7 linked regions of the Homo sapiens genome follow. The protein of the gene in region 1 purifies or fractionates together with the protein of each later gene. This does not show direct contact. Each region holds a gene or a part of one and is shown in the gene's direction. Other genes may lie near its edges. The genes, in order: NIBAN2, PAPOLA, GTF2A1, OSBPL11, DDI2, TMEM231 and NUP50.

What was found.
Region 2: the proteins of NIBAN2 (region 1) and PAPOLA fractionate together in Homo sapiens (co-fractionation; one large-scale study listed by BioGRID). This does not show direct contact.
Region 3: the proteins of NIBAN2 (region 1) and GTF2A1 fractionate together in Homo sapiens (co-fractionation; one large-scale study listed by BioGRID). This does not show direct contact.
Region 4: the proteins of NIBAN2 (region 1) and OSBPL11 purify together in Homo sapiens (co-immunoprecipitation; one large-scale study listed by IntAct). This does not show direct contact.
Region 5: the proteins of NIBAN2 (region 1) and DDI2 fractionate together in Homo sapiens (co-fractionation; one large-scale study listed by BioGRID). This does not show direct contact.
Region 6: the proteins of NIBAN2 (region 1) and TMEM231 purify together in Homo sapiens (co-immunoprecipitation; one large-scale study listed by IntAct). This does not show direct contact.
Region 7: the proteins of NIBAN2 (region 1) and NUP50 fractionate together in Homo sapiens (co-fractionation; one large-scale study listed by BioGRID). This does not show direct contact.

Annotation. Positions count from the first base shown.
Region 1 is NC_000009.12:127,566,274-127,570,283, reverse strand, and holds the start of NIBAN2 (protein Niban 2), read left to right. Parts: upstream 1-1,210; 5' UTR 1,211-1,409; coding exon 1,410-1,464; intron 1,465-4,010. UniProt on the Homo sapiens protein: May play a role in apoptosis suppression. May promote melanoma cell invasion in vitro.
Region 2 is NC_000014.9:96,508,634-96,512,743, forward strand, and holds part of PAPOLA (poly(A) polymerase alpha), read left to right. Parts: intron 1-4,110. UniProt on the Homo sapiens protein: Polymerase that creates the 3'-poly(A) tail of mRNA's. Also required for the endoribonucleolytic cleavage reaction at some polyadenylation sites.
Region 3 is NC_000014.9:81,189,525-81,193,634, reverse strand, and holds part of GTF2A1 (transcription initiation factor IIA subunit 1), read left to right. Parts: intron 1-795; coding exon 796-1,116; intron 1,117-4,110. UniProt on the Homo sapiens protein: TFIIA is a component of the transcription machinery of RNA polymerase II and plays an important role in transcriptional activation. TFIIA in a complex with TBP mediates transcriptional activity.
Region 4 is NC_000003.12:125,588,576-125,592,685, reverse strand, and holds part of OSBPL11 (oxysterol-binding protein-related protein 11), read left to right. Parts: intron 1-4,110. UniProt on the Homo sapiens protein: Plays a role in regulating ADIPOQ and FABP4 levels in differentiating adipocytes and is also involved in regulation of adipocyte triglyceride storage. Weakly binds 25-hydroxycholesterol. Interacts with OSBPL9 to function as lipid transfer proteins.
Region 5 is NC_000001.11:15,620,224-15,624,333, forward strand, and holds part of DDI2 (protein DDI1 homolog 2), read left to right. Parts: intron 1-4,110. UniProt on the Homo sapiens protein: Aspartic protease that mediates the cleavage of NFE2L1/NRF1 at 'Leu-104', thereby promoting release of NFE2L1/NRF1 from the endoplasmic reticulum membrane.
Region 6 is NC_000016.10:75,542,393-75,546,502, reverse strand, and holds part of TMEM231 (transmembrane protein 231), read left to right. Parts: intron 1-425; exon of another isoform or gene 426-548; coding exon 549-677; intron 678-1,007; coding exon 1,008-1,151; intron 1,152-3,819; coding exon 3,820-3,901; intron 3,902-4,110. UniProt on the Homo sapiens protein: Transmembrane component of the tectonic-like complex, a complex localized at the transition zone of primary cilia and acting as a barrier that prevents diffusion of transmembrane proteins between the cilia and plasma membranes.
Region 7 is NC_000022.11:45,177,122-45,181,231, forward strand, and holds part of NUP50 (nuclear pore complex protein Nup50), read left to right. Parts: intron 1-1,116; coding exon 1,117-1,779; intron 1,780-4,110. UniProt on the Homo sapiens protein: Component of the nuclear pore complex that has a direct role in nuclear protein import. Actively displaces NLSs from importin-alpha, and facilitates disassembly of the importin-alpha:beta-cargo complex and importin recycling.

The DNA of each region.
Region 1 (4,010 bases):
TAATCCATTTCAAACCTACCTCCTGTGGTGTGCACAGGCCTGAAGTACAGGTGCTCAGCAAATTTAACTGTTATCATCATCACTTCCTGCCTTATGCCACAGTCACACTAAGAGCTGCCCAATAACAACGTGAAATGCATGAGAGAAGTGGTGAGTGCTTAGTTACCAGGGGTCAACAAGCAGAAAGTGGATGGCCTTGTCCCAGTGCAGATCAGGAGATCTGAGCACCAGCAGCCAAAGGATTGAGATCTGGGGATCCCACTGGTTAACCTGACTGTCTCCCCTGCCAGCTTGGGAGGTCCTGAAACTGAAACACATTCCCCTGGCACTGCGACCCACCCATGCCCAGCCCCATAGGCTGGTGCCTGTCGGTCTCCGGGTTTTGATTCTGGTAGTCTTTTGCAAACTGTAAAGTGCTACTGCTTTTTCCTTTTCTGATTTGCTCTGTCCCCCAAGCCGCCTCCCGAGTGAAATGCCCATATGCTGAGCCTGAGGCAAGCCCGCCTGGCACTGGGGCGGGGGTGCCTTCGGGCCCGAGCCTTCCCCACCCCCTTCCTATAGCTGTTGTGCAAGACCAGCGGGCACACCTTCTGGGGCAGGTCGAATCAAGGCCAGGGAACTTCCTGAGCGCGGGCAGTGGCGGGCGGGACTTGGGGGGGCAGGGGGCACTGTTCAGGGTAGAGGAGGGGGCGAACGCCGAATTCCGGCCCGTAGGTCCAGGCGTCCCCTGCCAGTGCCCCACATCCTCCTCGGCGCGATTCTTTTCCCGCGCGGGCAAGGTTGGGGAGGGGAGGGGGGTGACACTCAGGCTGGAGTCCCCCAGAGCACCCCCAGTTTTTCAGATGTCCCCACCAGCCCCGTCTCTTTCTCTGCTTAGGTACAGGGCGGGTGCGCTCTTCGCAGTCTCTCCGCGGTCTCCCTTTCTGGGACCTTCTCTTTGTCTCCTTCTCCAGGGCGGTCCCGGCGTCCACCGCCCCTGTGCCCCGCCCGCCGGAGGCAGCGGAGGGGGCGGGGCATACGGGGCGGGCCCTGGAGGGGCTGGGTGGGGCGCAGGGGGGTGCAGGACCGAGGGCGGGGCGGGGCGGGGCGGGGTGGGACGCGGCGGGCGCAGGGCAGCGGGCGGGGAGGGGGCGGGGTTGGCCTGCGGGGGCGTGGTCTGGTGGGGCGGAGCGGGGCGCCGGGGTGCAGGGCCGAGGGCAGGGAGGGGGCCAAGGCGGCCGGCTGGAGGGACGGGGCCCGACCGGGAGCGGAGCCGGAGCGGAAGCCGCAGCCGGGCGGCGGGAGCGGCGGGAGCGGCGGGAGCGGGGGAAGCAGGGCGGGCCGGGCTCCATGGCGCCAGCGGCGTCCGCCTGAGCAGCGCGGGCAACAGCGGCGGCGTCGGCCGGATCGGGCCGCGACACCTCCTGGCCATGGGGGACGTGCTGTCCACGCACCTGGACGACGCCCGGCGCCAGCACATCGCAGGTGAGGGTCGCGCCGCGCCACGCGCGCCCAGGGGCCTGCCGGAACCCCCGGACCACGCCCCCGCCCCGGCCAGCAGTTGGCGCCGGGGCCGGGGGCTCGGGGGAGTCAGGCCGGGCCGGTGGGAGCTGCCAGGGAGCGTGCCCCGCGTCCGAGCTCGTTCCCTCTGAGCCTGGGCGCCCCTTCCCGCGCTCTTCTGAGCGCCACCTTTCCCGGCTCAAGGGGACTCGGAACTCCTTCTCTCCCGGAACCCCTTCGGAGCCCGGGCTTGGCGGACCCCCAGCCCACGACCCCTGGCCGAGCTGGGGCAGGGGTCGCAGCCTGCTGCCCACCCTTGGCTGTCCCCGCCCAGAAGCGTTGCAAGCCCATCCGCTACCAGCTTTGGGATCTCCCAGACCCAGCCAGCTCGCGCTCACCTTCCTCCCCAGCCGTCCCGTCCCCAGCTCCGCCGGGCCCCAGCCCTGGTACACGTGGCGGAGGCTTCCTGAAGGACGCGCCCATGAAGGCCCGGGACTGATTCTGGGGAGTGGGGCCAGGGATCGATGGGGCGCCCCGGAGGCGGTGGGGTTGCATGTCCTTTGGCGCAGACAGCAGGCTGCCCCTGCTAGCAGCAGGGGCCCAGGGACCGGTCACCAGAGTGGGGGGCCCTCAGGGCCAGTCGCCAGCCCCTTCAACCCTGTTCTTCAGCCAACCCTACTCTCAGCCTATTACTGCACAGTGGCCACTTCTCCCAGGGACAGCTGTCCCCAAGGCTCCTGGGGAAGCCGGAGCTGCAGAGGGGGCCTGGGTTCCTTTTCCCCACAGACTCTGGAGAACAGTGAGATAGGATGAGGATCTCGGCTGCCTGAGAAACTCCTCTCTGGCCGATCTCTCCTGGCTGGTGGAGCTGCCCTGGGTGGAATCCCAGCATTTGCTTCCCAGACATCTGTCCTGTACACCTTGGTTTTCTCCTTTTTGAAATGGGGTCAGTGATTTCTTCCTTATTAATGAGTTGTTGGGAGGCTTACGTGAAGTAACTCATGTGGCTTGCTTAGCACAGAGCCTGGCATAGGAGAGGCACTTGTATGTGGGGTGACGGTTCAGGTGGGTCGCCCCTCGCTGTCTAGTGGGCCCTGAGCACCGCGTCCGCCTGCACTTATTTTTGTGTCCTGTAGAATTTCACCACCGTGTTCTCCACGCTCCCTTGAGAGCAGGAAGCCCTGAGAGCAGTGGCCAGGTGTCCTTTAACTCCATGTCTCCAGGGCCGCACCCATGCTGGGCACCAGGGAGGTGCTGGGGAGATCTGCCAAGTGACTGTGGTCCCGGGCCAAGTCCCAAGGCCAGAGTCCCTCCCTTGTGCCAGGCCTGGGGCTGGCTGGGCACAGGGGTGACTGGGGTGATGTGAAAATGAATCGGACCCTCTCTAGCCTCTGACCAGCGTGGGGTTAAGTCCTGGAAAGCCTCCTTATCCGACCAGGCCTGGACTGTGGGAGGAGGAAGGGCCAGGGCGGAGTCTTCCTGTCCCCTCCCTGTCGCAGCAAGCTCCTGGGGCTCTGTAACAGTCCCTCCATTCAGGACCTCCTGTTGAGGCCCCTCGAGGGGCCTGGGTGGGGTGTGCCTTGCATTCGGTGGGGTTTTTCCTCTCCCCATACTCAGTGCTGGGCCTCCCTGTCTTCCCGTCTCCTGGGCTGAGAATTGCCAGCCCACCCTCTCTCCCCTGGCATGTTACAGGGGAGGGGACTGAGACCACAGAAGGTGAAGTGTCCTTTACTGGAGAGGGTTGGATTTATTTTCTGGATACCAGGCTGGGTGGAAGAAAGTTGTGCCCACTCAGAGCCTGCTGGTCTCTCTCTTCTCCACACTTCAGTGCTATTTATAATCCTCTTTAAATGCCTCGAATTCCTGGTCCAGACTCACCTGAGGGGAGTTCCTGATGTGGGGGGGTGGGGTGTTGGAAGGGGGCAGCGGGGAAGCCTCCCAGTCTCCCCAGAGGAAGTGAGCTGCCTTTGAAATCTCTGCTGGAAGGGAATGAGGGCGTGTATTTGCCTCCTCCAGTGATCCAGGCACCCTCCTCACCCCACCCAAGGAGCAGTAGGTACTCTCAAAGCTGGCAATTAAAATTCCAGAACCCTCCCTACCTGAGGCCTTGTTCTCTGCCCCAGTAGAAATGTCAGAGTTAGAGACATCCCTTCCCACAGTGCTCTGAGTTCCCAGGCCTGTTAGGGTTCCAAGGTTTGACCTGCAGCTTTGTGCCCGCCCCAAGCAGGTGAGCAGGTGAATGCCAGCCTGCCTGCAAGTCCTGGCAAAGGTCAAGCGTGCTCCCGGCCACGGTGCTGTTTTGCTGCCACGGCACCTTTCATCCTGGGATTTCAAAGCCCCTGGCAAGCAGAGGCTTGTTTCCACACCAGGAGCCCCACGGGGCTGGTGGCAGGATGACTCCTGCCTCCTTACACGAGGCAGTGTGCCGTGAGGAAGAATCCCTGGCCTGGGATCTGGGAGGCCTGAGGATCCTTGGGTAGGCCACTTCCTCTCCCTGGGTCTCAGTTTCCCTAGTTGTGAACCGAAGTGGG
Region 2 (4,110 bases), on another chromosome or scaffold:
CAATTAAATTTCATCTTCAGTTTTATCTAGGCAAGTTTATAAAGCTAGCTTCTTTCAGGTAAAATGAGACCATTTGGCTTCTTAGCTAGTTCTCATTTTGGGAGGGTGTGTGTGTCTCTTTTATTCTGTATGTTCAGGGTTCTAATTACCTAGCAGCTTTTAAATAATTGGACAATGCCAGTTTATGATTTACAAAGCAGCAACATTATAGGAGGTAATTGGTTCCCCTAAAAGTTGGTTAAAGTTGAGGCTCAAAAGAATACCTGACCAAGGTCATAAAGGTACTAAATTGTAGATTGGGGCTTAAATCAGCTCTGGATTCTGTGTTGCATTGTCATTCCAGTACACTATACCATCTCCTGTGGACACTGTAGGGAACCATGTGTGGTTAGCTCAGTTGGAGTCTTTATTTATTTTTGAGACAGGAACTCACTGTTGCCCAGGCTGGAATGCAGTGGTGTGATCATGGGTCACTGCAGGCTTGACCTCCCAGGCTCAAGGGATCCTCCCACCTCAGCCTCCCAAGTATCTGGGACTACAGGCACGCACCACCATACGTGGCCAATTTTTGTATTTTTTACTGTGACAGGGTTTTGCCACGTTGCCCAGGCTGCTCTCAAACTCCCGGGCTCAAGCAATCCCACCTTGGCCTCCCAAATTGCCGAGATTACAGGTGGCTCATGCCACCATGCCTGGCCAGTTGGAATCTCTGTATAGTTTCAAGTAGAATTAATTTTCAAGCTCAATTTTTTTTGTGTGTATAACATGTAAATCTCAAAGTATTTACATAATAAAAATGTATACAAAAGTATATAAACAAAAGTAACATATAGTGTATACTTGTAGTATACACAGAATGTAACATACTATAGAACCTGAGATCTTGTGCATTGCTTAATGATTGGATATATTCTGTAAAAATGTGTTATTTTTCAGATTTTATTGTGGGAACAGTGTACTTAACACAAACCTAAATGGTATAGCCTGCTATGCACCTAGGCCTATGCACCAATGATATGGCCTGTTGCTCCTAGGCTATAAACCTGTGGCAGCATGTTACTGTACCGAATACTGTAGGCACTTGTAACACATTAGGAAGCATTTGTGTATCTAAATGTATGTAAACACAAAAGGAATAGTAAAAATACGGTATTATGCTGTTATGGGACCACTGTTATATGTGTGGTCTGTCATTGACTGAAGAATTCTGTTAACGTGGCACACGACTACTTTCAGTGGCTTTATTTGCATATATATTCTTATTTAAAGCCATGCACAGATTTGCCACTTAGACGCCGCTTTGTTGTGGCCAGTACCTTTTGTGGGAGTTGCTTTTTTTTTTTTTTTTTTTTAATCTTTGGATTGTATGTAGGCCTGCTGAACTGTATAGCAATCTCATTTGTGGAAACCTAAGGATTTGGGAAAGAAAAAATAAAGGCATTCTGTTAGATTTCTTTCTTCCTCTTTTGTTACAGAATTATTTTTCAAATTTTTATTCCCTCTATATTTTGTCCAGAAATTGGATTCTTGGATTTTACGGCAGTTTTTATAATTTTGAGGTTGATCAAGAATAGTGTTTGTCATTTTGATCATTAGAAACATTTAAATTACATTTCCTGAAATTAGTGTCTGTAATACTATGACTTACTATAATCTTGACTATTTTCTGATACATTTTCACACTCTTTCGTACTTTTTCAGGTCCTGTTTCATACTTTATTAAATTTACATTTCTTTCATTTTCAAGTTGTACTTGGCAAGTTGATGTAGCAGTGTACAATTTGGCTTTTTTTTTTTTTTTTAAGTTTCTCCTAGCCATATGAGAGAGAGGGACACAACACACACGCGCGCGTGCGCTTGTGCGCAAAGGGGCAGTTGGAAGTACCCTTTGGAAGTGAGGAAAAATAACTTGGCCATTGTAGTAATTGAACAGCAAGTACCCTTTCTCTGCATAAGCAACCTTGAATTTTCAGTTTGGCCTTGGGCTTTATCATACATACTTTATTCCCCTTGAGCATAAACAAACTATTAACATCATCTTTGAGCCTCTGCTGCTGCTTTACTAAATATTGGCTGGATGGCCCACCTGCAGTACGTTTTTAAGAATATAGTGGGATCTAAATATTTTTAGTACCACTTACACAGAACACCTTACGGTGGGCCAGTTAACCATCGTTTTAATTTCTTAGCAAATAGATTATTTTGGCGATAATCTTGCCTGTAAGCTACTATCATGCCGTATACCTTGTGAAAAAGGAGATTGTATTATTTTGGCTAATAATTAATATTTAATGCACATTGAGATACTTTAGAGAGATCCCTTGTATCTTTTCTGTTCATGTCCTTTGAATGAGCACATTAAGGTTAAGACCTTTAAACAGCAAATTCTACTGTGATGAATTGTTACTTTAAATAAGTTAACTGTAGTTTATCTGATTGGTTTCAAAGAAGAATATTTAGCAAGTTTGGCTTTCAGTTTTAACTCTATCATGCAAATAATAAAGTGTTTTCTGTTAAGTAGTAGCTATAAATTGGGGCAGTTGACTCTGTTAATATCATGGGCCACAACTTGTTCCAAATGCCTAATATCACTAGGTGGGGATTAATCAGTAGTGCCTGATGAGTTTTGTATAAATTGAGACACAGGCGGGCTGTGGTGGCTCATGCCCGTAATCCCAGCACTTTGGGAGGTCAAGGTGGGAGGATTGCTTGAGCCCAGGCGTTCGACACCAGCCTGGGCAACATAGTGAGATCCTGACTCTATTAAAAAAAATTAAATTGAGATGCAAAGTACTTAAACATTAACTATTTAAGGAAAACACCAATGGAAATATGATGTTCTGTCCTTTTGTGTGTTAGTCGTCTGCCTAGATTACGCCTCTCCTTTCCGATCATTTACTGTGTACACCTTCTGGCATAGTCATGATTTTATCTTTGTTTCTTTAATGGTTTTTTTCCCAAACTTCTACTTTGCACTTGTTGTTTAAGGATCTGAATCCCAGACTAAATTTGAGATTGTCATTGAAAACAGAGACTACCTTAAGCATCTTTGTATTTCTGATTTTATTTAGCATTGTCTTTTATGCATATTTAGGAATTTGGTACATTTCAACCTCATAAATACTGTACTTTCTGACAAAAGGTAGATGAGAAAAAAGTGCTTTTAGGAAAATTGAGTTGATGTTTAATAACTTGGCCGCCCTAGCAGCTTCCTGGAGCAATAAATAAAGCAATATTTGCTTTGGATTTACTATTTCTAGCCACAGAGTATTGCACTAAAAAGCTATTTTAAAAATCTTTGTTTATTTCACAAAATAGTGTTTTAATTAGCATAAACTGAGTTTTTAGCTAATAACCAAAAGCTAATTATTGTTTTAATTTGAAGATTTGTTTGGTGCCCCTTGCTGCCATTATAGGGGGTTATTTTAGCCTCCTTGCTATAACTATTCTAATTTAATGGTGAACGGTAGAATTAGTTGACTTTCAACTTTTGCAAGATTATTAATATTTACTTTAAATAATTTAACATGTTGAAACAAGTTTATAAAATATAAGGTAAAATTTTACGGTCTCAATTCTGCTTGATTGTGTTTCTATGAATGTGTTATGGACATAATATACAAATAGTTAAAAAAAAAACTGGGTGTCATGGTCCATGCCTGTAATCTGAGCTATAAGGGAGGATCGCCTGAGCTCAAGAGTTTAGATCAGCCTGGGCAACAGAGCAAGACACCATCTCTAAAATTAAAAAAATATATATCTTTATCTATATGACTACATATTGTAAATGATGTGCAGAGGTGCCTCAGTATAGAGATGATTATTATAGGCTATGATATCAGCTATCTGGGTTCATATTCTGGTCCAGTAAACTTAGTCAAGCCTTCTTTCTTAGTTTAATAGTAAGAGTTGTTAGAAAAAATTGGGAATAATGTAAAGTGCTTGACTTAATACGTGGGTTATGTTGAAATTTCAGTAGATGGCAGCTATGATCGTAATTATATTCTGCAACTTTTTTTTCTCCTGATACACATGCTGCTAAACATACTATCTCATTGCTTTATTTTGGCATAGTTTTAAGTTGTAAGCATGTACTGTAATTAACAAGTT
Region 3 (4,110 bases), on another chromosome or scaffold:
TTAGGGGTATGGCCAAGGTATCAGTACTTTTTAAGTTGCCAGGTGGTTCATATTTGCAGCCAGGATTGAGAACCATTAAGCCTAGTTTGACAGTGAAACGACAGAGGCCAAGAGGAGTTAAATGACTTGCGTCTGCTGTATTTATGTCTGACTTTAGACAAAAGTAGACCCAGGTTGGCCAGGCGTTGTGGCTCACGCCTGTAATCCCAGCACTTTGGGAGGCGGGCGGATCATGAGGTCGTGAGTTCGAGACCAGCCTGACCAACATGGCAAAACCCCGTCTCTGCTAAAAATAACAAAATTAGCCGGGCATGGTGGCGCGCACCTGTAGTCCCAGCTACTCAGGAGGCTGAGGTGGGAGAATTGCTTGAACCCAGGAGGCAGGGGTTGCAGTGAGCCGAGATCACACCATTGCACTCCAGCCTGGGTGACAGAACGAGACTCCATCTATAAAAAAAAAAAAAAAAGGTAGACCCAGGTTTTCAGATTCTCAGTCCAGTGTTCTTCATGTGAAGGCAGTGTATAACTTTTGTCCTGGTAGCTGGCATATACATAGTATGTGCTCAATAAATGAAGCAGTTATCTTTAGAAAATCCTTATTTTCTAGAAATTTGATAAAATAGAAATTTAATGGGTCACTACACTAGTTAAACTAATTGCTTTTGTACTTTGGTAGTTTTTAACTGTGTATGAAATATGGCCATTCTGGTGAATCTTAAGCATTTGTTTCTATTTCTGTGTACCATACTTGATCCTCTTAACTAGTTACTGTTATGTGGTTTTCTTTTGCTTTAGGTGCTGGCTCCTCTTCCTGGAGGGATTTCACCACAGACAGGTGTCATCATCCAGCCTCAGCAAATCTTATTTACAGGAAATAAGACTCAAGTTATACCTACGACAGTGGCAGCACCTACACCAGCCCAAGCACAGATAACTGCAACTGGCCAGCAGCAACCGCAGGCCCAGCCTGCTCAAACACAAGCTCCATTGGTCTTACAAGTTGATGGAACTGGGGATACATCATCTGAAGAAGATGAAGATGAAGAAGAAGACTATGATGATGATGAGGAGGAAGACAAAGAGAAAGATGGAGCTGAAGATGGGCAGGTGGAAGAAGTAAGTTTCTAGTAACATACTTAAAATAATCTACTTGATTATTTCCTTTTTTAGTTGGTACAACACTGATAAATTATATCCTGTTTTTTTCAGAGACTGTTAGGTGCTGTACAACATAAGATTTTAAAGATAAAGTTAGATTGTTTTAACTTTAGTAAGGTTTTTATATTCTGGCTATATTTATCTTCATAAAATATAACTTTCATATAGCTGGTAATAAAAAATGTATAACAAATTAAATTGTATTAATATGTGTAGTAAAGAGTACAGGTAATTCTAACTCTGGCTTACGCATTTATAATGTGGCTTAAACATAAGACATTGGTAGATAAATAGATGTGGTTAATCTTTTGCTTCAGTAATTTAAAAAGCGTGGCAACATTTGGGGAGAGAGCAAACTCAAGAACCAAATGTCACAAATTTATTAAATATTTAAAACCTTTTGGTCCATGTTCTATACCACTTCCTTAAAAACCTATGTACCCTTAATGTCTGTGTTCTTCTAGAAGCATATAAATATGCCTTTGTTTTCCTCACTATTTCAGCTTAGTTACTAGGCTCCAAAAACTATTTGTCCCACCACAATTTTCACTGTTAATTGCCTTCGTTAGCCTAAAATGCAGTCTTTTTGTTTCTTAGTACAAAGTTCTTCTAAATTATCTAAGTAATTTTTTTTCTGAAGAAAACATAGTTTATTATTGAATATTGAATAGACACAAATGAATAGAAATGTTTCAAGATAAAAATCATCCTGGTGCCCACCATCTAGTTAAAATAAAATTCCATTATTTAAAGTGCCTTAGATGCCTCTCCCTAATCCCATCATTCCTAGGCCATCAAAGTACCTTTGCTCATACATTTGTGTTGATTATTAATTGCTTTTATATTTTACCATATATATTTATATTCCTAAATAGCATATTGTTTAGTTTTGCATGTTTACAACGTAAATGAAGTAATTACGTATTCTTCTGCAAGTTGGTTTTTTCCCCTTAAAATGATATTCCTGAGGTTTATCCAAGTTGTTGCATATAGCTATAATTATTTTCATTGCTGAATATACCATAATTTTATTTGTCAATTTTTCTAATCCAGTGGACATAAGGATTGTTTCTTGTTGTTTACTGTTACAAACAGTTATAAAATATTGTAGTGTATGTCTTCTGGGGACACAAATGCAAGAGGTTCTCTAAATTTTATACCGAACATTGAACTTCTGGCTCCTAAGTCATGCACATCTGCAACTTTATAATAAAATGCCAAATCACTTCTGCCATTCAATACATAATTGTGCAGATGTCCATACCCCCTTATCAATACCTGATAGTGTCAGGCTTCCTGATTTTTGCTGGTCTGGTAGGTAGAAAATAGTATTATTTCATTTTGGTTTTAGTTTGCATTTCCTCACTTAGGAGTTTTAGCCTCTTTTTGTATATTTATTTGATATTTGTGTTTTGTATAGAAGTGCTTATTGAGGTCTCTTGCCCGTTTCCTCCCCCTAAATTCTTCATAGTTTCAGTGCTTCTTGAAGTAACATGTTTTTATTACCTTTTCCAGTTTATTGGTAGGATGGAAATATGTAGCGCTTTTAATATTCATCCTTGAACCAGCCACCGTCCTAATGTCTTTTGTTAGTCCTCATAATGTATCTGTAGATTCTTTTGTATCTTCTGTGTAGACTTTCACATCTTATATGAAGAACGGCAGTTTTTTGTGGCTCATTGGCTAAGCCTTCGGGAACAGTATTGATTAGAAGTGGTGATAGCAGGCACTCTTCTCTTCTTCTTAAACTGAAAAGTAATCTTTTCCATGCTTCACTGTTAAGTTTAATGTTTGTTGTGGGTTTTCTTTTTTTTTAATGGATATCTTCATCAGGTTAAGTAAATTCCCTTCTTTGCATTGCTTTGTTTTTTAAACTGTAAGTGAATGTTGCATTTAATTAAACACCTTTTCTGCAATGATTTGTATAATTTCTCACGTAATGTTATTTATAATGGATTTCATTAATTGATTTTCTATTTGTAAACCAATCTTGTACTCCTGGGATAGCACAACTTGATCATTTTATATTTCTCTTTTTATAAATTGCTGAATTCATTTTGTTGAGGACTTTTTTGTAGATATTTATGATTGATAGATACTGTGTGATTTTCTGTTCTCATACTCTTCTTACAAGGTTTTCAGTTATGGTAGCTTTGTTAAATGAATTTGGGGACATGTTTCCTGTATTTTGAACTCTTTTTTTTTTTTCAAAGATTGTATTTAATTCTTCTGTTGATATTTGTTAAAACATGACACTACAGATACCTGGGTCTAGTAATCTCATGCCCTTCAAGTATTTTGTTTCTGTTTGAGACCGTTTTGATAAGTTATATTTTTCTAGGACTCTCTATATATTTATCTAAATTTTCAAGTTGATTAACATGAAGTTAATCATGATATTGTCTTTTTGATGCCAGAATCCTTTGTCATCTTCATTCCTAATATAATTATTGTGCCATCTTTTTTTTTCCCTGTTCAGTCTTACCAGGGATGTGTTGATTTTATTAATGTTTTCAAAGAGTAAACTTTTAGCTTTATTCTCTCTAGTGTGTTTTTCCCATTCTATTCTTTTCTGACTTAACTGTTTTGTTTGTAGAGAATATGATCTGTGTGATGTGTGAATCTTTTGAAATTGCTTGAGACTTGCTTGATTTGGTCAGTTTTTGTATATGCTTTGAAAAGAATGTGTTTTCTGCACTTGTTTGGTATTTGTATGTGTCTGTTAGATTTATATTGTCAGTAGGTTTGCTCAGATGCTCTTTATGTATCCTTGATATTTTTTGTGTGCTTGATCCATTTTTTTTTTGAGATGGAGTCTCGCTCTGTCACCCAAGCTGGAGTGCAGTGGCACTATCTCTGCTCACTGCATGCTCCATCCCCCGGGTTTACGCCATTCTCCTGCCTCAGCCTCCTGAGTAGCTGGGACTAGAGGTGCCCGCCACCTCGCCCGGC
Region 4 (4,110 bases), on another chromosome or scaffold:
TCTTTTCAATAGGTAAAGGGATGAGTATATACAATGAAACATTTCCCTTACATACTTTCCCAGCCACTCGGTTTCCTTCTCTGGAAATGCTATCTTTTACTGATTTCTTGACTATAATTCCAGAGAAATTTATATTAGTTCTTTATTTAATAAACATGTGATGACATGCAATATATTTTAATTTTGTATAAATTCTTTGCTATACTTTCTGCAAATATTTCACTAGTCCTCAGATTTAATTTCATTTTTTTTGACACACAGAAAACTTTTAAGTCAGACCTCTTATTCCTCTTTTCCATCCATTTCTAATTATAAAAAGTAACTTTTATAAGTACTTGGTTTTGGCTGGCACTGTAGCTCACCCAAAGTGTTGATCCTTAGCACTTTGGGGCGCTGAGGTGGGAGCATTACTTGAGCCCAGCAGTTTGAGACTAGCCTGGGCAACATAGAGAGACCCCATCTCTACAAAAAATTAAAAAATTAGCCAGGCATGGTGGCATGCCTACTCAGGAGGCTGAGGTGGAAGGATTGCTTGAGTTCTAGGCTCCAGTGAGCTGTGATTGTGCCACTGCACTCAAGCCTGGGTGACAGAGCAAGACCCTGTCTCAAAAATAGTTAAATAAATAGTTGTTTTCATGAAGTTTTAAAATAATTTGGTAGTTTTACAATTTAACTTTTTTTTTTGAGACAAGGTCTCTCTCTGTCTCCCAGGGTTGAGTGTGGTGTCTCCATCATAGCTCACTGCAGCCTTGAACTGCTAGGCTCAAGTGATCCTCCTATTCAGCTTCTGGAATAGCTGGGACTACAGGTGTACACCACCATGCCCAGCTAATTTTAAAATTTTTTTCTAGAGGCAGGATCTTGCGATGTTGCCCAGGCTCATATTTAACTTTTTAATCTATCTGGAATTTATTTTGAAATACAGTGTGAGATAGTGTATCTACTACTGCATTACAAATTACCCCCAAATTTAATATATTAGCAGCATTTATTATTTCATAGTGTCTTTGGGTCAGGAATCTCAGTGCAGCTTAGCTGGGTCTTCTGGCTCTGAGTCTTTCTTAAGACTGAACTGGGAAGGATTCATTTCCTAGCTGATTCATGAGACTCTTGGTGCAATTCAGTTCCTTTTGGCCCATTGGACAAAAAACTCAGTTCCTCATGAACTGATGGCCAGAGACCTCCTTTGTTCACTGGCCACATGGGCTTCTTCACAGAGCATCTTACAACTTGGCAGCTTGTTTCTTGAGAATGAGGAGGTAAGAGGACTAGAGAGTGCTACCTGGAGAGAAGTTAACAGTCTTTTGTAACCTAAGCACTGAGGTGAATTCACATCACTTTTCACTGTTCTTCAGAAACAAGTCCCACACAAGGGTGTGAGAATACCAGCAGGTGGGGATTATTGGGATTTATGCCAGAAAATGCCTAGGCAGTTAATATAATAGACTCAAGATTGTAAAGACTAGAGGGGAAAACGGACTTGGGGAGTCAAATTATGTATCTGGTTTTAGGTATGTCCAGCTAAAGTTGCCAGAATGTTTAAGTGTCTTATCTAGCCAGTCCTCAGAGATATGGAGTATTGGAAATGTAGATAATTGTCTTTACATTATCCAGAATGTTTTCACATCTGTTATCACATTTAATCCTCCCAACTCTGGAGGAAGATACAGCATTATTATTCCTGTTTTGCAGTTGAAGAAAACCTAAGTCTAAATGACAATATAGACTTAGGCAATATAGTACATGAAGTTATATATTGCATGTAGCTAAGGTTACATAGCTAGTAAGTGGGAGAACTTTTATTTCTAGATAGATATTTACATAGAGGTATTAAAAGTAGATAAACTCTCTAAAAGGAATGAATAATTATTGATAATAACTAGTTTGGTACATGGTTGGTTTTATGGTTTACTCATGTTCTAACTTATGTAGCAAATATTTTTGAGTCTCTACTATGTCTGAAGCACTCTTTTATTAATGCCAAATTAATGTGCACACCCAAAACAACGAAAGAATGAATTCTAAGGCTTATTTTAGGAGGATCATCAAAATAATCAGGAAAAGGAAGGGCATCAGTGGCATTTACAAAACAATCTCATGATGACCTTTTGAAAAAAAAAATTTTTTTTTTGAGACAGAGTCTGGTCCTCTTGTGCAGGCTGGAGTGCGGTGGCAGATCTTAGCTCACTGCAACCTCTGCCTCCCAGGTTCAAGTCCAAGCGATTCTCCTGCCTCAGCTTCCCAAGTAGCTGGGACCACAGGCACTTGCCACCACACCCGGCTGATTTTTGTATTTTTAGTAGAGATGAGGTTTCACCATGTTGGCCAGGCTGGTCTCAAACTCCTGACCTCAAGTGATCCACCCACTTCGGCCTCCTGAAGTACTAGGATTACAGGCGTGAGCCACCGTGCCTGGCCCTTTTGAAAAATTAAACTTAAGAACTTAATTTATTAGATTAGCCTTGTATTTTCTTGTTTCCAGAGTAATTTATATTCATATGATGTGAGCTTTCTTTACCATTTACAGAGAAGATAGATTTCCCAGTTCTGGGTCTTTCCTTCCTTTTTCATAGTGAATATTCACACTTTATAAAATATGCATGTTTTCATTATTTTTGTATTCTTCATGTCAGCTTGTAGAGAAATTCACAAATCTGCAAATATGCCACCTGCTTATTAAAATGGGCAGAAGAGAACTATTCAAAAGAGGAACTGAAAGACAAACCAGGGTGTTTGATGGCCTGCTTTTTTTTAAAATTTTGAGCTCCTCACTGGCTAATCATATTAACAGATAAATCTATTTTCCTCATTAGCAAACAGCTATACTTTTCAGTAAATGTGTAAAAGTCTGCAAATGTGTAGTATAGAAATAATTTTTGTGGTCAGACCACAATAATTTTGTGGTTTCTTCCACTGTCAATACTATTATAAGGAAAAGTGCCTGTTCGCGGATGGGAAAATGAGATTGGCCTAAATATAAATGAATGTTCATGGTCTTAGAGGTTTTACCTCTTCTTCTGAGTTGATTTGAAGAAAAAGTCATAAATGTCTGCTTTTTTTTTTTTTTTCCTCTGCAGGGGTTAAAGGAAAATTGATACATATTTCTACACTCTAGTTTTTGTTTTCTGTATCTGACATCTGCTATAGATGCTGGTAAAAACAAGAGAAAGATAATTGTAGGCATGTAACTGGAAACTATAAAATATTATTCCAAAATCTAGTTAAAAATATACCAAGTCTTGAGGAGCAAGAGTTGGTTTATTAATAATGTGCTGTGATTTCTTAGTTTCCTTACATTTTTGCACTACATATCTTTTCTGTTTTGTTTTTTTTTTTTTTTTTTGAGATGGAGTTTCACTCTTGTTGCCCAGGCTAGAGCACAATGGTGCAATCTTGGCTCACCACAACCTCTGCCTCCTGGGTTCAAGCGATTCTTGTGCCTCAGTCTCCCGAGTAGCTGGGTACAGGCAGGTGCCACCCGGCTAATTCTTATATTTTTGGTAGAGACGGGGTTCCACCATGTTGGCCAGGCTGATTTCGAACTCCTGACCTCAGGCGATCTGCCTGCCTAGGCCTCTTAAAGTACTGGGATTACAGGCGTGAGCCACCGCACCCGGCTTTGTCTACATTTCTAATCATTTGTCATAGATGGGATACCTAAAAGTGAAATTCTAGGGCCAAAGAGTGCTAACATTTTTAAGACTCTTGGCAGGAGGGAGGACCCCTCTCTTGACTTTATACTTTTTGTCATAGATTAAAATACAGTTAGACTTTATTTTGTTTGCGATTTTGAGTATACAGTCTGCGAGTTGAATTTTTTGGGGAGGAGGTGGGCAGGTTACTGAGAATTGCCTCATGGCTTCATAGAAAAATTCTGTTTCTTTCTTCCCATTGCTTAATTCATTCAGCAAATAAACATTATATCCCAGGCTACACACTAGCTGTTGCGAGGAATATCTCTTAATGTCATTAGCCTTTTCCTCAGCTAAGCAAGCCACTCCCCGCTTCATGCTATTTCTTATCCAGAGAATGGACCAAAGTGCTAAGCCTTTTGGGAGGATACTTTTTGCCTAGTTGAAAGTATGGATTTTGACATGTGACTTGCCTGGT
Region 5 (4,110 bases), on another chromosome or scaffold:
TTCTGTTGGCTCCATTGTAACCTGACAACACAGTATCTATTTTAAGGTGTCTGGTGGTCGGTTGTCTTTCACTTGCTTGCTTGCCCATCAGGCAGGAACAGGATCCACCCTAGACACTTGAGTCATTTCCTTTCATCAAATCATAATAGTAAACATCACTATAGTTTTTACCCATAAATATATCATGTTTACTTACTTGAGTGTCCCCCCCCATTACCTCCCAGGGTTCTCTCATATTACTCATCTTCCCTTCCTTTCCTAGACTGTTTAACTCCTCCTCTTGTTTACATTCTCCATTCCCATTCCTTCACCTCTCATTTCTGATTCCATTTCTTCAAGGAAATATATATATTTTTATGTTCTGGCTATTTTTTCCTGCCACTATGTGTCCACACCACTGGTGTCCAAACTTTCATTCATGTATCCCTATCAGTAAAATGTTTCAGATTATGCTTCTGTTATGTATATAATACATTATATACATGAACTGATACGTTGTATACATTATATATGGCCACATGTGCATATAATACACATAACGTGCATTATATGCATATATAATATGTTATCTGTAAAGTAACATTGTACACACACAAAATGGAGCTTAAGGAAGGACGAACTAAAATAAATGGAAATGAAAATTCTAATATTTTCAGTTTCTTCCTCCACCGTTAAAGAATTGTCTTGCATGGCTGCCCTACATTGGTGATCAATGGTTTAGAATTCAGTCTTTCACCTGAGTGTCAATTGCACATAAGCATATAGTTGGAAAAGGTGTTAATTTTTAACAGCTCTAGTCTGATGATAGTAGTTACAATGCAGTGATAACAAATTTAGAACAAGCCATCTCTGCTTGTACATGTGATTAAAGCTGGGCATGTTCTGTCTCTTAATAGAAGTGTGGGCTTGGAAGCCAGTCATGGCTCTGTTTGATGCTTTGATGCAGACTTGCCTGGGTGAACTTCAAACAGTTATCAGAACTTAGCTTCACTTTAAATTAATGTCTTCATATTTTTGAGACATGATAATTTACCTCTGTAGGTGGCATATGGAAAAAGTAGGCACAACATACAAGGACCCTCAAATGAAAGGCAAATAATAGCAGTAATTGTATGATCTTGGAAATGCACACAGCATGATTTGTGGTTTGTAAACCACTATTTTATCTTCTGTGTGTTTGTTTTTTTGAGACAGGGTCTTGCTCTGTCACCTAGGCAGTAGTGCGCTCACAGGTCACTGTAGCCTCAACCTCCTGGGCTCAAGTGATCCTTCCACCTCAGCCTCCTAAGTAGCTGGGACTACAGGTGTATGCTACGACATATGACTAATTTTTTTGTTTTCTTTGGAGATGGGGGTTTCACTGTGTTGGCCACGCTGGTCTCAAACTCCTGACCTCGGATGATCTGCCTGCCTTGGCCTCCCAGAGTGCTGGGATTACAGGCGTGAGCCACCGCATCCGGCCCCAAATTGATAATTTTAAAGGCTACATAATATACCATCATATAGATGTGTTGTAATTTAGCAATTTCCCTTTTGTTGAGCATAATATTGGGGAAAATTGGAAGCAGTTGTAAGTAACATGCCATGAACATCCATATACTTAAGACTGTAGCCTCCATTTCTGTTTTCTCAGGATGAATTCTTAGATATGCAGTTGCCAGATCAAAAGCATAAAGTCTTTGAAAGGTTTTTAGTAAATTTAGATTATACAAGTCAAATTGGCTATTACATGGGGTAGTATATGTAGATAACTTGGTAGATATTGGGTATTTGATTAATGGTAATACTATTATGAAGCCATTCAGATGTAATTCCAAATGTTTTGTGGCCGGTTTATGGTCCTTATTTTATCTTTATTCTTTATATTTTAGAGATGGGATCTCGCTCTCGCCCAGGCTGGAATGCAGTGTTGCAATCACAGCTCACTGTATCCTCAACATGTTGGGGTCAAGGGATCCTCCCAAGTAGCTGCGACTTTTTTTTTTTTTTTTTGAGACGAGGTCTTGCCAGTGCTAGGCTTGAACTCCTAACCTCAAGCAGTTCTCCTGCCTCTGCCTCCCAGAGTGTTGGGATTACATGTGTGAGCCACTGCACCTGGCCTACTAGTTTATGTTCTGTAATGCTAGAAATTTATTGTTAAGCTTTTTGTTAATAGAAGGCTCTCATTCAGAGACCAGAAAACACCTGACCTCATGCTTAAAAGTTCTGAAGTTTTATTAATTAGTCTATTGTTAAATGTTGATTAAGATTATAATTCAGTCTCTGGGGTGCCTCCTCTGGAGTAAGTACCAGCAGTTGTGCCAGTTTTGCTGATTAAGACTCATAGCTGTATACATTTTCTTGTTGTATGTTCTTATAACTGGCAAAACTTGAATTTTGGGCTTTGTAGCTGTTGAGTTGGGTAACATGAATGGTGGAAGGATCAAGAATGCCGGCAGCGGATCCCCTTTTGTTTTTATTGGTAGAGATTTGAAGCCATGTCTAATAGATACTGAATGTTTGGTTGGAAGATCACATGGATTTATTTTGGGACTTTTGCTGCAAAATAATTGTCTTTCTTGGACTCTTAAGCCTATTTAAACAAAAAGAAATCAGTTCTTTGTGGCAATTACAATTTTAGCTAAGCTTTAGTTGATCTCATTTATGTCCTTAGATTAAAATGGAGCACAGCTGCTGCTTCGTCAGTGTGAGGAACGTGTGCGCCTCACCCAGGTTCTTCAGTCTAGTGTTTCCAGGAAATTGGCGCTGAAGCAACATTTCATATTTCATAGACATGCTCAATGTGGTGGTTATCTAGATTTTACATTTTTATTGTTAGATCATGCTGCCTTCCTTTAAAAAATGCTATTGTCTGCTGAGGAAATATTGTGGCAACTAAGCAGTGATGGAGTGAAGTATGGCATCTGTGAAGTGGGAGTCAGAGCGGGCAGTTGGTGGTGTTTCTTCATGTCCAGGGCATGGGGATGCGTTGAGCAGTGGACAGTATTTTGATCCTCTTAGTGGATAGAGTCTCTTAGTGGCAATGGATGGCTTAGTAGTACTTGTTAAAATCACCCAGCTAATTCACCAGGCCACTTTAGGGTTATGTTCGGGAAAGCTGTATATGATACTCCTGGAGTAATGGGCTTTGAAATTAGACAGTTCCAATTGCAGTTTTCTTCTTCTTTTTTTTTTTTTTTTTTTTTTAAGAGACAAGATCTTATTCTGTTGCCCAGGCTGGAGTGCAGTGGTACAATCATAACTCACTGCAACCTCGAACTCCTGGGCTCAGGTGATCCTCCAGCTTCAGTCTCCCAAATAGTTGAGACTACAGGCATATGCTACCATGCCTGGCTTATTATTATTATTATTATTATTATTTTAGAGATGGGGTCTTGCTGTATTGCCCAGGCTGGCTTTGCATTCCTGGCCTCAAATGATCTTCCTACCTCATCCTCCCAAAGTTTTGGAATTAAGGCGTGAGCCATGGCACCCAGCCTGCATAGGATCATTTTGATTCTCCTGAGTTTGCTTCCTCCTTGTAAATAAATAAATTTTCTCTTATAAATAGTTAGTGGCCGGGCGCAGTGACTCACGTCTGTAATCCCAGCACTTTAGGAGGCCAAGGCGGGCAGATCACAAGGTTAGGAGATCGAGACCATCCTGGCTAACATGGTGAAACCCCGTCTCTACAAAAAATACAAAAAAAAAATTAGCCGCTTGTGGGGGCAGGTGCCTGTAGTCCCAGCTACTCAGGAGGCTGAAGCAGGAGAACCTGGGAGGCGGAGCTTACAGTGAGCCGAGATCCCGCCACTGCACCCCAGCCTGGGCGAGAGCGAGACTCCGTCTCAAAATAAATAAATAAATAAATACCGTTAAAATGTGCCTCTGCTCCCAGGAGACTGTTCATGTATCTCTAAATATACTGATAGTTGAATTTCTGAAACTGGAAAATTAAAGAGTAGGTTGTTGACAGTGGCTTCACAGTGTTGATGCTATGCTGTAAGAGCCTGCCTACCTGCCATTTCTCTTGACATACCTCTTTTTTCTTGTTGCACACCTCAACCTGTGACGCTCATCACTTCTGGTTTATGTGTTTTTTCCAAGCAGTCTCACAAGTTATAATATGAC
Region 6 (4,110 bases), on another chromosome or scaffold:
TCACTGCACTCCAGCCTGGGCGATAGAGTTAGACCCCGGCTCAAAAAAAAACAAAAAAAAATAGAGCTTGGTGATTTTCTGTTGAGTTTGAGTTTGTTGGAGGAATGCATAATGATTAGGATTAGGTGTTTTTCTATTTTAACAAGTTGACTTCTAGAGACATAGAAGACTATTCTGACATGCTACTTAAAATTTCCATACAAATTCAGGCATATTTGTAAAAAAGAAAAAAATATCAGTGCAAAATAAGCAAGATCACATGAGACAACTGAAAGGCACAAATACTATCCAGATGTTTTTTGTTATTGCCCATTTATTTTGGCCAGTGAACATTTGAAAGGCCCAGATATGAAGTTCAGGGACCATGCACTTTGTGTCTCTCCCCAGTATTAATGCACTTACATCTATCTGCTTTTCTCTTTTAGTGGAGGAGATAATGCCTGTTGTGTACAGCAAGACAGTGGGTCATTGTGTATTTACAGAAGTGATGTGGATTCCTCCCAGACTCATTAGTGACCAGGGCTGCTGGGCCTGTTTGGGTTTCCTAGACTAGAGAAGAAGACAGGAACCAGGATGGGAAGACGGACATGTTACATTTTAAGCTGGAGCTTCCCCTGCAGTCCACGGAGCACGTTCTCGGTGTGCAGCTCATCCTGACTTTCTCCTATCGATTACACGTGAGTCAGTCCGCTGGGAGGCTGTCCTCTCCCTTGTGTCTTTTTAGTAGACCAGAGTCCTTCTTCTGATTTCTAGAAGACCCGCACTCTAGCGGGCCCTCTTCCCCATGTAGTTTGGGATTTAACTTAGGCCAATGGAATGGTTTTCACTAGTCATATTAACTGACATGGGCTATTAATAGCTCAGAAGGTTCTAGGCAGTGTTTCCTGCATGGCTACGCTAGGTATGTGAGGGCCTCTTAGGTTTCAGCCAAGACAGGTGACTCTTAGCACCCAGAGCCCTTCAGATCTGATGGCGGTTGGTATTGTTGGTCCTTCTAATGATTTCAGAGGATGGCGACCCTCGTGATGCAGAGCATGGCGTTTCTCCAGTCCTCCTTTCCTGTCCCGGGATCCCAGTTATACGTGAACGGAGACCTGAGGCTGCAGCAGAAGCAGCCGCTGAGCTGTGGTGGCCTAGATGCCCGATACAACGTAAGAGCGCTTCTCATTGTCCAGCTCCTTTGTTTCTCTGTGTTACTGTTCATTAAGTTCTTTAAAGAGGGGAATGAAAAGTAGAAATGTCAGGCCAGGCGCAGTGGCTCATACCTGTAATCCCAGCACTTTGGGAGGCGGAGATGTGCGGATGGATCACTTGAGGTCCGGAGTTTGAAACCAGTCTGGCCAACCTGGTGAAACCCTGTCTCTACTAAAAATACAAAAAATTAGCCAGGCGTGTGGTGCGTGCCTGTAATCCTAGCTACTTGGGAGACTGAGGCAGGAGAATTGCTTGAACCCAGGAGGTGGAGGTTACAGTGAGCTGAGATCTCGCCACTGCACTCCAGCCTGGGCAACAGAGCAAGACTCTGTCTCAAAAAAAAAAAAAAAAAAAAAAAAGAAAAAGAAAAGAAAAGTAGAAATATCATTTCTTTGTGGGTGGCACCAAAGAGGGTCTCTGTAGAATTCTTGCCATGAATTTTTTCAAACTACAGAGAAGGTACACGCATAGTTACACCTAGAAGGGAAGAGAAACAAAATCTGTGTTTGTCGAAGAACTAAATTGCTTATTGCTTTTAGGTCCACGTGGGTGCACACACACACATTGTGTCTTCCATACACACGCTTGGTCACACGCAGGATGTACTCCGAAGGACACTGTAAAATGATGATGTAAAATGTTCATGTAAAGTATTTCAGAAATATTACTAGCCATAGTTTACTGAACTCATAACATATGCCACCCCTGAGTGCAGGCGTTTACCTATATCATCTCCTTTAATCATCATGGCAACCTCTGAGCTGCCTGCATTGTCCTTTCCCCGCACTCCAGCCACTTGTCCCATCACTGCCCCCGCTTGCTCCCTTCCAGCCCCCCTGGCCTTTTTGCTGTTCCTCAAACCCAAGAAGCAGCTGCCACCTCAGGGCTTTTGCTTTTGCCATTTCCTCTGCCAGGCATCCATGTGGCTTATCGGACCATGCCATTCAGGTCCCTGTTCAGATATCCCCAAGCCCAGTCCTTCTCTGACCTGCTTCTACAGTAGCAGCCCCTCCTTCCACCATTCCTCAGCCAGACTCTCCCTCCTGCCGCCTGGCCTACTCAGGATATGTGTTTGTGTGTTTATTTGCTGTCTCCCTCAGCCTTGACAGCAGTGGCATCTCAAATACTATCACATCCGTGCCTAGCACACTGCCTGGCAGATGGTAAGCTCACAGAGATACTTGTTTAAATAATGAACTCATTTTGCAGAAGACGTAACTGGGGCTTAAAGTGATTAATTTTCCCAAAGGCTCAAATCTTGAAAGATAACAGAGCCTGTCTGTGTGCAGAACTCATGCATCTAATCACTCATTCCTCACTTTTATTTTATCACAATGGGGACCATAGAAGTTGAGCTGAGGTACTTCTGAAAATGAAAAAGGGATGTTATCGGTTATTACAGCCATAAACCCAGACTTGTAGATATATAGTGGGTTTTACTGTTGCTCTGACTATAATCAATATAAGTTGTAAAGAATAGGAAGCTGCAACATATGAAATGAATATGGCACTTTTTGTTTGAATGTCTATATATCAGATTACATTAACAGCAAGCAATTATTTCCTCCTTTAAGGGATTATATGCTTATGGTTTGCATTTTATCTATATCTCTATATTTAAAAGTGATAAAGAACTTAGCACCCAGAAAAGACCAAGAAAATGACAAAGGAGTTGGAAGTATGGTTTCTTTTTTTTGTCTTTGTGTAGGGGTTTTTATTTGTATTTTATTTTTATTTTTGAGACAGAGTCTTGCTCTGTCACCCAGGCTACAGTGGAGTGGCATGATCTCGGCTCACTGCAACCTCTGTCTCCCAGGCTTAAGAGATCCTCTGATTTCAGCCTCCTGAATAGCTGGGATTACAGCCATATGCCACCACGCCTGGCTAATTTTTGTTTTCTTTGTAGTAGAGATGGGGTTTCACCATGTTGGCCAGACTGGTCTCGAACTCCTGGTCTCAAGTGATCCATCTGCCTGGGCTTCCCAAAGTGTTGGGATTAGAGGCGTGAGCTTCCATGCCTGGCTTTTTATTTTTTTTTATTTTTATTTTTTTTTGAGAGATGAAGTCTTTCTCTGTTTCCTAAACTGGAGTGTAGTGAGTGGCATGATCATCATTGACTACGGCCTTGAACTCATGGCCTCAAGTGGTCCTCCTGCCTCAGCCTCCCAAGTCACTGGGATTGTAGGCATGAGCCACCACACCTGGCGAAAATACGGTCTGTTAAAATAATTTAAGGAATTCTTTCTCCCGCTGAGATAAAGAGGGGTATTTTAAAAATAGCTTTAAAACCTGTAAAACATGGACACTGACCCCTTATTTCCATCCACAGAAAGAAAGACTGAGAGTAAATGGGCTTAAATTGTTGCAAGAGAGTTTATTCATCTTTGAAGAGAAGATTATTGATACTGCAGTAGGCCACCAAGAACAAGAGGGTGCTCTGTGGGACCAGCCTGGGTGGGCAGCAGCCTGTTTTATTCATCTTTGAAGAAAAGATTATTGATACTGCAGTAGGCCACCAAGAACAAGAGGGTGCTCTGTGGGACCAGCCTGGGTGGGCAGAAGGGTAGAAGGAAAAGGGGAGGAGTCTCCCAGGTGCTCACACCACATCCTCCTCCCGTGTCCCAGATATCCGTGATCAACGGGACCAGCCCCTTTGCCTATGACTACGACCTCACCCATATTGTTGCTGCCTACCAGGAGAGGAACGGTGAGTCACAGGTAGAGCCCATTCAGCCGCTGCTCAGGACTTTCAAGGTTAGTGGGGGCAACAGAGACAAGCAGAACTGGAACCCTTGTGATGAAAATGTCAAAACCCGTGAATGCTCAACGATGGGAGCAAATATGCTGTCCAGGATTTGTCTTTTTCGTCCTGATCTTCAGACCTGGGACCGCCCCCACCCCTCCAGCATCCCATGG
Region 7 (4,110 bases), on another chromosome or scaffold:
GTCAGACCAGCATAACTCTTAGATAGGAAAAGTGAGTGTTCGTATCCACTGGTTTCTCATCCCCAGAGTACTGCATTGAGACAGGGTCTCGCTCTGTCACCTAGGCTGGAGTGTATTGGTGTGGTCTTGGCTCACTGCAGCCACAACCTCCCGAGCTCAAGTGATCCTCCCCCATCAGCCTCCCCAGTAGCTGGGATTATAGGTACACACCACCACACTCAGCTAATTTTTACATTTTTTGTAGAGATGGGGTTTTGCCATGTTGCCCAGGCTGGTCTCAAACTCCTGAGCTCAAGCGATTTGCCCACCTCAGCCTCCCAAAGTGTTGGGATTACATGCGTGAGCCACCACACCTGGCTGAGGACTGCATTTCACAGGTGTAGAACCTGCAGGTACAGAGGGGCGACTGTACTTTAATACTGTTCATCCCAACAACCTTGGGGATTAAGTGTTAATGCTGACCTGCTGTTCTAACAGTGCTGTTTGAAATAGGCATCCTTTTGTCTACTGCCACACCACCCTCGACGCGCCCGATCACATCTCAGATAGGCGTCCTTTTGAAGGAAAAGATTATTTTTAAAATGTGTAGAGCAAGCATATGGTGGTTAGTGTTCTTGTATAAACTTTGACTTGATCTTTATTCATCGGCTTTACTGATAACTGGTTACTAAATTCTACTCCTTGAACACATACTTTTTGAGCGGTCACAAAAATAGGGCACAGTAGGTCGGGCGCAGTGGCTCACGCTTGTAATCCCAGCACTTTGGGAGTCCGAGGCGGGCAGATCATGAGGTCAGGAGTTCAAGACCAGCCTGGCCAACATGACGAAACCCCATCTCTACTAAAATACAAAAATTAGCCGGGTGTGGTGGCGGGTGCCCGTAATCCCACCTACTCGGGAGGTTGAGGCAGGAGAATCGCTTGAACCTGGGAGGCAGAGGTTGCAGTGAGCCAAGATCGTGCCACGGCACTCCAGCCTGGGTGACAGAGCAAGACTGTCTTGGTGTGGGGGGAGATACAGTAAAAGCAGAAAGTATGAAGGCAGAGTGGCAAAAAAATCTAGATGATTTAATCAAATTAGGCTAAATAAATGGTTCAATTATTAACTTTCTATAGGTTCTCTTGCTGCAAATGGCCCTACCACCTTGGTTGATAAAGTTTCAAATCCCAAAACTAATGGGGACAGTCAGCAGCCCTCCTCCTCTGGCCTTGCTTCCAGTAAAGCTTGTGTCGGAAATGCCTATCACAAGCAGTTGGCCGCCTTGAACTGCTCCGTGCGGGATTGGATAGTGAAGCACGTGAATACAAACCCCCTCTGTGATCTGACACCTATCTTTAAAGACTATGAGAAATATTTAGCAAACATTGAACAGCAACACGGGAACAGTGGCAGGAATTCTGAAAGTGAATCTAACAAAGTGGCAGCTGAAACACAGTCTCCTTCCCTTTTTGGCTCAACAAAATTACAGCAAGAGTCAACGTTTTTGTTTCATGGCAACAAAACTGAAGATACACCTGACAAGAAGATGGAGGTGGCATCTGAAAAGAAAACGGACCCATCATCACTAGGAGCGACAAGTGCCTCATTTAATTTCGGCAAGAAAGTTGATAGCTCTGTTTTGGGCTCATTAAGCTCTGTCCCCCTGACTGGATTTTCTTTCTCCCCTGGAAACTCCAGTTTATTTGGCAAAGATACTACCCAGAGTAAACCAGTCTCTTCACCATTTCCCACTAAACCATTGGAGGGCCAAGCAGAAGGTGACAGTGGTGAATGCAAAGGTAAGTACCAGCTTTGTCGTTGAGTCGAGGTTTGCATAAGATTCTTGTTTCTTGGGAAACCCAGAGACTTTGATTCCAAATATGAGTCTGGATTCACATTGAGACGTTGTTCTCTCCATGTGTGATCTCAGACAGAGCTAATCAGCTTCTCTGAGTTTCAGATTCCTGCTTTATAAAAGAGTAAGACTTTTGTAGGGTTGTTTATAAGGATTAAAAATAAAATGAATTTGAAAACACCTGACTTTGAAAAGTCTCAAACACACATGGTTTAGCATATAAAAAACAAGTGAATTAAAGACGTTTTTTGAAAATTGTGTTTTTGGAAAAGTTCATCAAGTTCATCATGAATGTCCCCTGAATTGATTTGTACTTAGGAGATCTCACTGTAAATAAAGTCATGTGGCAAAACAGTACTTGACTATACATTACAAATGTAGACTTTTCATAGCCATAGAGAAGAAATCAACATTGTTTTCCTCCTGTGGGTTTGGAGGCGCCTCCTTTCCAGAGCGTGGCAGTGGTGTCTAAGTGATGTTTCCTGTGTGTATCGTCAGTGCCCCAGACAAGGCACAAGGTCTGGGCCCTCCAGACCTCTGTTGTTAGCTTAAAAAGTGGGGTGATGTCATGATGCTGCTTCCTCACATGGTGGTTGTGAACAGGTGATGTCTGTGAAGACACCTACTTCTAAGCAGTTGAAAGTGAGGCCAGGTGAGGTGGCCCACACCTGTAATCCCAGCACTTCGGGAGGCCAAAGTGGAAGGCTCACCTGAGGCCAGGAGTTTGAGACCAGCCTGGGCAACATAGCAAGACCCCATCTCTACAAAAATTTTTAAAAATTAGCCAGGCCAGGTGGTGGGCGCCTGTAGTCACAGCTACTCTAGAGGCTGAGGTGGGAGTATCTCGAGCTCAGAAGTTCAAGGTTGCCATGAGCCGTGGTTGCATCACTGCACTCCAGCCTGGGCAGCACAGACCTTGCCTCAACAAAAGAAAAAGTGTACTTCTCAGACATATGGACATACTGATCCTTGAGGAAGAAAACTGCATTTGCCAATTTGCCTCTGAAATATTACGGTTTTCTATCAGGAGTCTAGACTTCCATTACTGTTTTGCCTTGCCCTGCTTTCAAGTATATCCTCAGGCACGGGCCCTCTGGGCACAGGGTGAAATAAGGGTCTCCCCTTTTCTTTCTTCTCTGCCTCCCATAAATAAAACAAATGGGGAGTCTTTCCTGAGGCAGGCACTGGGGATTTGAATCGAGTCCCAGTGGAGGCAGGATGCCCCTCAGTGAGCGCCTGTTCCTTGTCCCTTGGTTATCACAGTTTAAGCATCAGAAGACTCGGGAGATTGGAGGGATAAGACGGACAGTCGTGTGACCTAATCATCTGAGCATCACAGTTGTTTTTCTTAGAATTGCTTTTTGGTGAGTTTTTATGCAACTGCCGTTCTCTTTAAGAGGATCCTTTTATATATGTGGGGTTTTTTATTTTTTTGAGACAGGGTCTCGTTCTGTCACCCAGGCTAGTAGTGCAGTGACGCAATCATAGCTCACTACAGCCTCTACCTCCTGGGGTGAAGCAATCCTCCCACTTCAGTCTGCCAAGTAGCTGGGTCCACAGGCACGTACCGCCACACCTGGTTAACTTTTTTATTTTTTGTAGAGATGGGGGGCGTCTCACCATGTTGACCAGACTGGTGTTGAACTCCTGGGCTCAAGCGATCTTCCTGCCTTGGCCCTGCAGCGTGCTGGGATTACAGGCGTGAGCCACTGTACACAGCCTAATACATGTGTTTAAATGATGGCCTAGGTCTCCCGTGTTTGGGAGACCCCGTTAGTGGGGATACCTTTGGTACCAGAGCAGTGACCCATGTGGCAATTCAGACAAAGCTTAAATTACTTACACTGGGGCTTTGGAATGATTTTTCTGACAACTTGTCCCCTGTTAAAAAAAAAAAAAGTATTTTTCTATCTTTGGCTATTACTGATACTTGTAGATGTAGTCACAGGAATATTCAGGGGTGAAGGTGTTAAAAACTCATCCGAGATGGAATTTTCCAGTGGGTAATTTGCATATAGAGTGTTGATTTTTTTTTTCTGTCATAAGCATGGAGATTTTTCCATTTTAAGGTTTTCTATATATTGGAAGTTATTTTAGAATTAAGAGGTATGTTCCCATTAAAAGGGATTCTTATTTTTCACAAAATAGTTAAAATCCTGCAGGTACTCCCTTCTGGCATCCCCCCCCCCCCCCATTAAGTGTGCATTTTAGTCTGTCAGTTTACATGGAGTGCTCCGGTGGAGGTTTAGGGTGTTACGTAACAAAACTTCAGTCA